Homo sapiens: one gene and its partners. The protein of the gene in region 2 purifies or fractionates together with the protein of the main gene of each other region. This does not show direct contact. Each region holds a gene or a part of one and is shown on either strand. Other genes may lie near its edges.

Region 1 (3,724 bases), on a different chromosome or scaffold from region 2:
CTATGTTGCCCAGGCTGGTCCTGAACTCCTGGCGTTAAGAGATCTGCCTTGGCCTCCCAAAGTGCTGGGATTACAGATGTGAGCCACTGTGCCTTGCCAGCCCTGGAACTTTGAAAACTATGCACTGGCCAAAAAAAAAAAAAAAAAAAAAAAAAGCCGGGCGCAGTGGCTCACGCCTGTAATCCCAGCACTCTGGGAGGCCAAGGCGGGCGGATCACGAGGTCAGGAGTTTGAGACCAGCCTGGCCAATATGGTGACACCCTGTTTCTCCCAAAAATACAAAAATTAGCCAGGCATGGTGGCTCGCACCTGTAGTCCCAGCTACTTGGGAGGCTGAGGCAGAAGAATTGCTTGAACCCAGGATGTGGCGGTTGCAGTGAGCCGAGATGGTGCCACTGCACTCCAGCCTGGGTGACAGAGGGAGACTCCGTGTCAAAAAAAAAAGAAAAAAACATGCGCTGCCTGGGTGTGGTGGCTTACGCCTATAATCCCAGCACTTTGGGAGGCCAAGGTGTGTGAATCATTTGAGGTCAGGAGTTCGAGACCAGCCTGACCAATATGGTGAAATCCTGTCTCTACTAAAAATACAAAATTAGCCAGGCGTGGTGGTGCACGCCTGTAATCCCAGCCACTTGGGAGGCTGAGGTGGGAGAATCGCTTGAACCCAGGAGGCAGAGTTTGCAGTGAGCCGAGATCGCACCACTGCACTCCAGCCTGGGCAACAAGTGTGAAGCTCCGTCTCAAAAAAAAAAAAGAAAGAAAGAAAACTGTGCAGCTCAGTTCCTCCCTGGTCTCTGTTTCCATTTACTCCACGTCGAATCTTTTTGCCACCTGCAGGGTCTGCCTTCAGAGAATGTGTTATAAATGAATGCAAGTGCCTGCGGTGAGGAGGAGGCCAGTGCGATTCTTCCAGACTCGAGTTAGAAAGGAAAAGTAAATATTTATTGAGGTCTTAATGTGGTCTAGCTGGATTTGTGACATTTCTTATCTTTAATCCTTGGCTCCACCTGCTGAAGTAGTGGATATTACCTCTATTTTCCCAATCAGTAAACCATGGCTCACTTTTCTAACTTTCGTTTCACATTGATGAGCTGTAATTCTTCTGTGAAGAACTTTCCATCTTCCAGGACTAGTTTGTTACCTTGAAGTATGGTACGAGAAAGGCAGTTTAATGCTTAACTGTTCCTTTTGATGACTAATTTTCAGGATAGAGAGTTGGAGCTTACTCCAAATGTTGACCAGAGTTGAGGGTTTGTTTGGGGGTAGGGAAGGGGTTCTCTTTTTTTCTCCAGCATCATTGTGAACTTTTATGTGTTTGTCAGTTGCATGAATTATTCGTTTTCCTAGTCAAATTGTCCTGTCTTGGCCAGGCGCAGTGGCTCCAGCCTGTAATCCCAGCACTTTGGGAGGCCGAGGTGGGCAGATCACTTGAGGTCAGGAGTTCAAGACCAGCCTGGCCAACGTGGTGAAACCCCATCTCTACAGAAAATACAAAAATTTGCCAGGCATGGTGGTGCACGCCTGTAATCCCAGCTACTCAGGAGGCTGAGGCAGGAGAATTGCTTGAACCTGGAAGGCGGAGGTTGCGGTGAGCTGAGATCGTACCACTGCACTCCAGCCTGGGCGACAGAGCGAGACTCCATCTTAAAAAAAAAGAAGAAAAAAAAATTGTCCTGTCTTAGCCATTGGAGCCCTTCTGATTGGCTCCTTGCCCTTCTAGCACTGTGGGTCAGCGTTTCTCCCAGCGGGATGCCCGCCTTCACCTTGTGTACTTCCCATCCCAGAGCTGCAGTCAGCCCCTCCTTCAGGACTCCAGGTGCCGTTAGTGGGGAGCGGTATTTAGAGACACAATCCAGGTGCCATGGGTGCTTTTTGCTGCTGGGTGGTCATTGTTGTTAGGCCTTTACTGTGAAAAATTAGGAAGTACACACTTGGGGCAGCAGCAAAGAGTTCCTAGCAATTAGCGTCACTTTCAGTTGAACAGTCCAGATCTTTGCTGTTTTGAATTTCATATTTAGATCTCGTCGCTGGTATGCTTGGTTCCGCTCCTCGTTTCTTAGTTGCTTATTCTACCCGTTATTCACTGATGTTATTCTACTGTACACTCACTCATATAATTGCTTCAGAATGAGCATTCTCACAGCACAATTGCAACTGGAGTGCTGAGAAAAGGTTAGTATTTCTTTGCAGGCTGGGTGTGGTGGCTCACACCTGGAATCCCAGCACTTTAGGAGACCGAGGTAGGTGGATCCCTTGAGGCCAGGAGTTCGAAACCAGCCTGGCCAACGTGGGGAAACCCCATCTCTAGAAAAAATATAAAAATTATCTGGTGTGGTGGCGTACGCCTATAATCCTAGCTACTAGGTAGGTGGAGGTTGCAGTGAGCTGAGATCACGACACTGCACTCCAACCTGGGTGACAAAGTGAGACTGTCTCATAAAAATAAAAAAAAAGAAGAAGTCTGGTCATGATTCCTGTACTCTCCCTGTCCCCTCCCTGACCATGGATAACATTTCTTAGGCTCCTAGTTCACCTGTTCCATATTTTTGCAAATATAAGCAAATTTGCATGTATAATCACCCTCTGTCCTTATTACACACAGAGTAGCTTTTTATTTTATTATTTTATTTTATTTTATTTTATTTTTTGAGACGGAGTTTTTCTGTCTCCTAGGCTAGAATGCAATGGCATGTTCTCGGCTCACTGCAGCCTCCGCCTCCCGGATTCAAGCAGTTCTCCTGCCTCAGCCTCCCGAGTAGCTGGGACTACAGACACCCACCACCGCGCCCAGCTAATTTTTTGTGTGTTTTTACTAGAGGTGGGGTTTCTCCATTTTGGCCAGGCTAGTCTCAAACTCCTGACATTAGGTGATCCACCCACTTCGGCCTCCCAAAGTGCTGGAATTATAGGCGTAAGCGACCACGCCCAGCCCAAAAAGTAGCTTTTTAAATTTACAGGTCAGGCACAGTGCCTCACACATGTAATCCCAGTATTTTGGAAGGCAGAGGCAGGCAGACTGCTTTAGCCTCAGGAGTTTGAGACCAGCCTGGTCAACATGGTGAAACCCCGTCTCTACGTAAAACAAAACCAAAAATTAACCCGGCATGGTGGCACATGCCTGTAGTCCGAGCTACTTGGGAGCCTGAGGTGGGAAGATCACTTGAGCCCGGGAAGGTCAAAGCTGCAGTGAGCCATGTTTGAGCCACTGCACCCCAGCCAGCATGACAGAGCAAGACCCTATCTCAAAAATAAATATAAACATACAGTCATCCTTCCATATCTGTGGGTTCCACACTAGTGGATTCAGCCAACTGCGAATTGAAAATATATGGTAGAAAAACAAAATACTATAATAAAGAATAAGACATTTTAAAATAATACAGTATAACAATTATTTGTATAGCAGTTTTATTGTATTAGGGATTACAAGTAATCTAGCGATGATTTCAAGTATATGGGAGGATGTGCATGGATTACATGCAAATACTAAACCATTTTATAAAAGGGACTTGAATATCTGTAGATTTTGGCATCCGCAGGGGTCCCTAGAACCAGTCCTCCGTGGATACTGAAGGGGAGCTGAACTATTCTGCACCTTGTTCATTTCATCTCATCGTCCCAGAGAGCTCTTCATAACGACATAGAAGGCCTTTCTCATTTCTTGTACGGCTGTGTAATAGTGTCAGTGGGTTTCCTGTCAGTTCCTCTGCTGTTCTGTGTTACA
Region 2 (3,500 bases):
AACGTGATGCCTTCAAAGGAAGCACATAAAAGTCCATCTTAGCTGATGTCACAGTGAGACTTACTCAAGAATCCAAGGCTCCCCACCTCTAATCACAGCAGCACCCTGATAAGCTCACTGCAAGACCCATCTACAGAGGCATTTGATCACACTGTCTCCCAGACATTCTCACCAGTCTGTAAGGTCCTTGAAGGCAGGGACTGTGTTTTATTCATCATTGCACACCCAGCCATATAAACAGCACCTGGCACATAGTATGCACTCAATAAATGCTTATGACGAACTAAACCTTACCCTTGAAAACCTGAACAGAGCGGGGAGAATGCATATACCTACAAAGCTATAATTATATATAACATAATGACAACCTACATTTGGTCTTTTAAATATATGATTCTAGAGACTACAGAAAATATTAACTAAACGTTTTATTTGAAGAAACCAATTAAATCCCAAGTCTTAAATATAATAAAATATTAACAATGACTAATTGTGGATATTTGAGTGTTCATTATATTCTAATTATTCCTTTTTTATTTTTAAAAGCTAAAATAAAAATCCATTTTTACTATACAGGAAAATTTCTTCTTTTAGTTTCAACCACGAAGACCCATCACTCTAGGCCAGGCTTTCTCAGCTTTGGCACTAGTGACATATTGAGCCAAATATTTACTGTGGGAGTTGTCCTGTGCATTGTAGAAAATTCAGCAGCACTCTTGCTTCTACTAACTAGACGCCAGCAGGACCACTTCCCCTAGATGTGACAACCAAAAATATCTACACATTGCCAAATGTCCCCTGGGGAGAGAGGGTACAAAACCACCCCCAGTTGAGAACTACTGCTTCGGGCCACAGCTAAAACCAAATGTCAGGTATGTGAAGGTTCCCTTGCCTTTCAGGGCCATGCTAACAGTCAGTGCCTGACTTTACCCTGGAAGGCAGCTGTGGTCTGATAAAGGCAAATGTGTTCTCATTCAAAACAAATACAGTTTTCTGTTCCATGCCTCAGTATGGCTACATACTTGTGGTTTGTGAGCCTGGAAGGTAAGGTAGCTTATCTAGAGGACAAGATAATATTCTTATATTAACACAGGATTGATATGTTCTTGGGACCATACAACCAAGCCATGAATTCCTTGTATCGAAAGTGCCAGAATACATACTATTTATTATGTATTTATTCTAAGACAGGGTCTTGCTCTGTCACCCAGGCTGGAGTGCAGTGGTGCGATCTTGGCTCACTGCAACCTCTGCCTCCCCAGTTCAAGCAATTCTCCTGCCTTAGCCACCCAAGTAAATTACAGGCCCGTGCCACCACACCCGGCTAATTTTTTGTATTTTTAGTAGAGACGGGGTTTCACCATATTGGCCAGGATGGTCTCAAACTCCTGGCCTCATGTGATCCTCCTGCCTCGGCCTCCCAAACTGCTGGGATTACAGGTGTGAGCCACTGCGCCCAGCCACAGAGTGATATACTATTTAAACACATCTCCTTCTACAGTAACTGAGACTGCTCAAAAAAGAGCAAAATCTGGCCAGGCGCAGTGGTGGCTCACGCCTGTAATACCAGCACTTTGGGAGGCCAAGGTGGGCAGATCACTTGAGGTCAGGAGTTCGAGACCACCTGGCCAACATGACCAAACCCCGTCTCTACTAGAAATATAAAAATTAGCCAGGCATGGTGGTGGGCGCCTGTAATCCCAACTACCCAGGAGGCTGAGGCAGGAGAATCGCTTGAACCTGGGAAGCGGAGATTGCAGTGATTGTGCCATTGTACTCCAGCCTGAATGACAGAGCGAGACTCCATCTCAAAAAAAACAAGAAACAAAAAGAGCAAAATCTGCTTAGTGTGAACACAGTGTAGTGTAATTTATATTAGAGAAACCATCTGCTTACAGGTACATAACAACGGTGGCCCCCATGACCATGAGGAATCTGCTCAGGGAGGAGTAGAAGTAGAGGATACTGAGAAAAACAGAAAATGTAGCTGCTGAATAGGTCCAATCCAACCAATCTCGATTTATTTCATCATCTTCTTCCACAATAGGGCCACCTTGTGCATTCATCCGCAAATTTTGATTGGCTCCAGGATTAACAACCACTTGAGGAGCAGCATTCTGATTGGCAGGCTGGTTTTCAGCTGGAAACTGGTTGTGAATAGGGGCTGGAGCAGGTGCAGAGACCACAGGTATCTCTTGTGCACTTGGTGGTGGAACAAAAGCCCCTGATGCAGCAGTGGCTGCTAAACTAAAATAAAAACGACAGAGGCAGATACTGTTGAGACCAAAGCACCGTGAAGTCTGTGGCTTATTTACACAGCAGTCTTTTACTGTTAAGAATTTCAAGTAGGTAGATATGCCTTTGATTTTTCTTCAATTTAGTGAAGAACTTCCTTACTAACTATATCTATAAATGCCTTTTCTAAGAAAAGCCACAAGGTGAATTTCACCTGAAATTAAACATCAAGCCCACTGTAAGATTATGGCACAGTAGCAAATTAAAATCCTCACAAAACTTTGAAGATAGCACAAATTGAAAAGAAAGTAACATGTTCTAAATAAAGTCACTAAACTATGTATCAGACAAAAGCACCCTTGTGTCAATACACAAATCAGGTAGCAGCTGTCATTTACACTCTACCCACAGACCAAACAGAGCAGGGCTCTGCAGACTGATGAAAATACACTCATCCCTCCATTCTGAACTTTACAGGTAACATGGATAAAATTCCCTTCAATTCCCGGGAGCCCTGGCCACACCCAGCATGGCGGGAAGGACTCACTATTGCATGTAGTACTGTCGTGCATATATCTGCTGGAACCAGGAAAGCTGAAGCCACCCATAGGGTGTGTAACCGGAGAAACCAGGACCCAGGCCTTGGAATGCCTGCTGGGCAGCTTCAGGCCTATACATAGATTTGAAAAAACACTCATTTTGAGTGGGTTGAGTATGAACAAATGAAAACTAAGTTTAAATTAAAATCAAGAATTCAAATCGAAGAGACAGAAGAATGGAATTTACGGCAGTTACATGGTAAATGACTGTATGACGCACCCATGTACCACAAGCACAGAAGGTACTAAATGACACAGCACTTCTACCACAGTCCCATCCCACAGGAAAACAACAGCCCTTGCCACCTGCTTGCTGAGTGCACAGATATATAAACAACCTTTTTGGGTTAAGTAGATCCCACCTCAGTTTTGACTTGTTGAGTCTCACTGCAGGTCTCAACCCACTGTTCATCTTTTAGAGAGCAGCTCAAAAGCCACATTTCTCCCAGTCTTTCCTGAAGGAAATCTCTCCCATCCTCCCAATATCCACTTCTTCCTCCATCCTCCATCTGAATCTATAGTGAAGTGTGCATGTGGTATCACCTGTGCATGCTTACTGACCACCGGGGGTCCTGTACAGGCTGCTGGGTCCACAGCAATCTCATGAAGGAGATTTTACAAGGGGAACCCAAGTACAGCTCAGGGAAGACAGGGGCTTTGCACAAG
Region 3 (3,724 bases), on a different chromosome or scaffold from region 2:
ATGCAGTTTGTGGGGAGCTCAAGGCTCTGCCCAGGGTACTCTCTGAGACTGGTGAGGCTCACCCCCAATTCTTCTCTTGGCCAAAGGCTTCCCTAGCAGGAAAGACCCCCACTCCCTGCCTCCCTGAAGGCACAGCTTTTCCTAACCCTGAGCCGCCAGGAAGGCCATGGGCTGGGCTGTCATGAGCTGGGGCCTGGGTGATGAGGCAGTGACCACAATGGCCACTTTACAGATGAGGTCATGGGGGCTGGGAACAGGAGCACCCCATCCAGGCCTCCAAGGGAATAAGCAGCCAACCCAGGTCCACCTGCTGCATGCCGCAGCCTGCGTTCTCACCAAGGCCTCCAAGCTGCTGGGCCACCCTCCAGCCTGGGGCAGCACTGGCTTTGAGAGTCAGTGCAAAATGACCTGCCCAGGAAAAGCCCTGCTTGCTGATCTGTCCATCTCCCTCAACACACACCCCCTCCTCCCCACCCAGGGAGTGATGATGTGTACCACAGATCTGGTCTCTTGCCCCTGAGCCCCAGGGTTAGTGAGCAGAGAACCTGGGATCTGAGCCAGGCAGCTCGGCACCCGGTGCAGGCTGCAGCCCCAGCGTGACGTGGTCCCGGTGCACCCAGGCTCTCTGGGCACTTCCGGCCAGGATGGCAGCCTTCGGTATGTGTCCTAAATGCCAGCCACGGGCCACAGGTGCCTACTGAGCACTTGAAATGTGGCTAGTGCAGCTCAAGAACTACATTTCAAACTTTATTTAATTTTAATTCAGTTAATTTAAATAGCTGCCTGGGGCCAGAAGCTACTGGAATAGTGCAGATCGGGGCCCAAATCCCGAGAGGGGGAGTGCCGTCTACTGAGTCCCTGACCCTGGATTCAGAGGCGCCGGGTGGGTTACTTGTCGGCCACTCAGGGACTGCAATGTCCTGGAAGATTCTTTCTGTCAGTGCTCTGGACCCCCCTGGGGGAGATGGTGGCTTCGGATGTGTGCCCACCCCCTCCCCTCCCGCACCTCAGGGTACAGACCTCTCCAGGTGGCGGCCTCCTCCGAGCAGCCCCTGGTGGTGGTGTCCACCACACAGGTAGATGACTGGGAAGAGTCGTCCTCTTTCTTGATGGAGCGGTTGCTGCAGGCACTGCCTCTTTCCAGCTTGGATCTCAGGTCTGCAGAGAGAAGGGTGTGTTTCTCAGTGGCGCTCATGGCTCCCTCCAGGGACAGACGCGGGGCAGCTGTACTTCCACTCTAAGGACAGTTGTCAGAAGTGGTGAGCCAGGCTGTCCCAAGCCACTCATCCACCCTGGACAGTGGGGGGCCAGGTCCTTGCTCAACTGTCCTGCCACCTCTTGTCTGCCAGTATTCAGGCCCAAGGTGACCAGATCTCTGACATTGAAAGAGACGTGGGAAATCTAAACATTCGAGGCCGGGCGCAGTGGCCCACGCCTGTGATCCCAGCACTTTGGGAAGCCAAGATGGGTGGGTCACTTGAGATCAGGAGTTCAAGACCAGCCTGGGAAACATGGTGATATCCCGTCTCTACTAAAAATATAAAAATTAGCCAGGCATGGTGGCGCGCACCTGTAGTCCCAGCTACTCGGGAGGCTGAAGCAGGACAATCTCTTGAACCCTGGAGGAGGAGGTTGCAGTGAGCCAAGATCACGCCACTGCACTCCAGCCTGGGCGACAGAGTGAGACTGCATCTCGAAAAAAAAAAAAAAAGGAAATCTACAAATTCATGTGAAAGTTGAAAGTTGTAGGTTTTAAAGGCTGGGGGCTAACTATAAACATTTTAAATGCTTTGCAGTACAGCACCATTTGAGTGAAACTATCTGTGGCCACACGCACCTGGCAATGCGTGATGTGTTTTCGATCAGTTCCAAGAAACAGAGGACCCTGAAGGTCAACTGCAAAAGGAGAAACTGAAATCAGCCATTAGAGGTCAATGTCCCAGAGGGTTCAAGTCACCAGAGCCGGAATGGGGTGCCTAGAGCTCCAGGGTGGGAAGGCGCACACCGGAGTCAGAGCAAGGATGAGCCCCCCCACCGCCGCACAGCCAGGCCTCTTGGCAGCAGAGGCCCTCCCACGGCCCCTTGGGGTGGTCAGAAGGCCGTACCCAGGGCGTGCTTCACGTCCTGCAGGGGCGGCTTCCGGGGAACATGGGGCGGCTCCATGGTGAAGAGGCTGCCGTTGTGAGGCGAGTGCTCATCGGAGCTGCTGGGCGTGGTGGGGGCCTCTCCAGGGGGTGACGGGAACAGCAGCAGCTTCTGTCCCTTCAGGTTGAGCCGGGCAGGGCTGATGAGGGGCCTGCGGTGGCGCAGAGAGCCGGAGCTGGAGGCCACCGAGCCGGCCACGGAAGGCGCTGGGGAAGGGAGTGGGGAGGAGGGGCAGCTCCCCGACAGAAGAGAGAAGTAATCTGGAGGGAGGGAGGAAGATGATGTGAACGTGGGCTCCTGTCACTGCAACGCTACAATGCGCTATTTCATTTCTGGGGGCATTCTTCTATTAACCCGGGAAGACAGGAAAGGTGCAGAGACTGGGGACAGGGGGAAGTCCTGCTGCAAAGCTGAAGGAGGAGAGGTGCCCTCTACCAGGCACCTGAGGGAGAGGAGAGATCCCGGAGCCTCAGCCATGGCCTTCTGCCCTTGATTTCCATCCAAAGCCCTGGGTACCATCAGCTGAGAGCAAGGCCAGATAGCAGCAAACCCTGGAGGTACAAGGCCAGCTCACCCGAGGCCTTGCTGCCAGCTGGCACCTGGTGCACCAGTTCCAGCCGTGACTGCCACTGAGGACGGCAGAGCAGCATGGTACCATCTGATCCTAGAGACTGTCATTCCCATTTCACGCAAGAGGAAACTGAGGCACAGGTGTGTAGGTCACTTGCCCAGGGCTGAGATGTGAACACACACTTGGGGTCTGTCTGACCCCAAAGCTCACACAAACCACCATGCTCTGGAACGCCCGGGCTTCATGTTGCCCCGTCCCCCACTTAGCTCTCTGTCTTCCTCACCTGAAACAGGAAACTCCCCAGATCGAGACACCTGAGATGGTGGGCGGCTACCGCTGAACAGATAGCCGGAGTCTGGAGACAGAGAGAAGCGGGCGACACGTCAGGCCTGTGGATGACGTGCAGAGGCCCCCACAAATGCTCTGCCGAAATCCCAATCCAGCCTTTGCTCTTTACAAATGTGCTTTCATGGAAACACAGGTGCTCACGGATTCCTCGGACTGCTGTCTGAGGGCTGCTGGGCACGTTCCCTTTTTGCAGATAAAGAAACTGAGGCTTGGGCTGGGCGCAGTGGCTCATGCCTGTAATCCCAGCACTTTGGGAGGCTGAGGTAGGCAGATCAGATCACGAGGTCAGGAAGAAACTTGAGGCTCACAGCAGGTGGTGAGAAGAGTCGGCACTGGGCATATTGTCCACTCCTCGTTCCATGCCCTTCTTCCCACAGAAGGGCCTGCTTTTCCAGCCATCTAGTCCCACTTTCTCCACTAATTGCAGACCCCAACTGCCTGTTCTCTCGATCCCAGGGATCACCAACCACGCTGCCTTTTCCTAAATCAGGCGCACGCACCCCAAGGGCAGGGGCCCCAATTCCAAGTGGCTGGCTGAGAGCTGAATGTGGGACCCAGGGACTGCCTCATGTCCTGTTGCCACCTGTGGGCTCTGAAGGGTCTGTTGCAGCATGCAGATAACCCTCCCCTCACCAGGCCAGGGGATAGGCTGGATAAGGG

What was found.
Region 1: the proteins of HERPUD1 (region 2) and SLC35E1 purify together in Homo sapiens (affinity purification with mass spectrometry, with the first as the bait; one large-scale study listed by BioGRID). This does not show direct contact.
Region 3: the proteins of HERPUD1 (region 2) and TMEM201 purify together in Homo sapiens (affinity purification with mass spectrometry, with the first as the bait; one large-scale study listed by BioGRID). This does not show direct contact.

The regions. Positions count from the first base shown.
Region 1 is NC_000019.10:16,562,246-16,565,969, reverse strand, and holds part of SLC35E1 (solute carrier family 35 member E1), read left to right. Parts: intron 1-3,724. UniProt on the Homo sapiens protein: Putative transporter.
Region 2 is NC_000016.10:56,938,642-56,942,141, reverse strand, and holds part of HERPUD1 (homocysteine-responsive endoplasmic reticulum-resident ubiquitin-like domain member 1 protein), read right to left. Parts: intron 2,906-3,500; coding exon 2,783-2,905; intron 2,248-2,782; coding exon 1,897-2,247; exon of another isoform or gene 1,741-1,896; intron 1,277-1,740; exon of another isoform or gene 11-1,276; coding exon 1-10. UniProt on the Homo sapiens protein: Component of the endoplasmic reticulum quality control (ERQC) system also called ER-associated degradation (ERAD) involved in ubiquitin-dependent degradation of misfolded endoplasmic reticulum proteins.
Region 3 is NC_000001.11:9,609,187-9,612,910, reverse strand, and holds part of TMEM201 (transmembrane protein 201), read right to left. Parts: intron 3,072-3,724; coding exon 3,000-3,071; intron 2,406-2,999; coding exon 2,106-2,405; intron 1,897-2,105; coding exon of another isoform or gene 1,838-1,896; intron 1,693-1,837; coding exon of another isoform or gene 1,571-1,692; intron 1,159-1,570; coding exon 1,021-1,158; intron 1-1,020. UniProt on the Homo sapiens protein: Critical regulator of angiogenesis and endothelial cell (EC) migration. Promotes the migration of endothelial cells, which is essential for angiogenesis.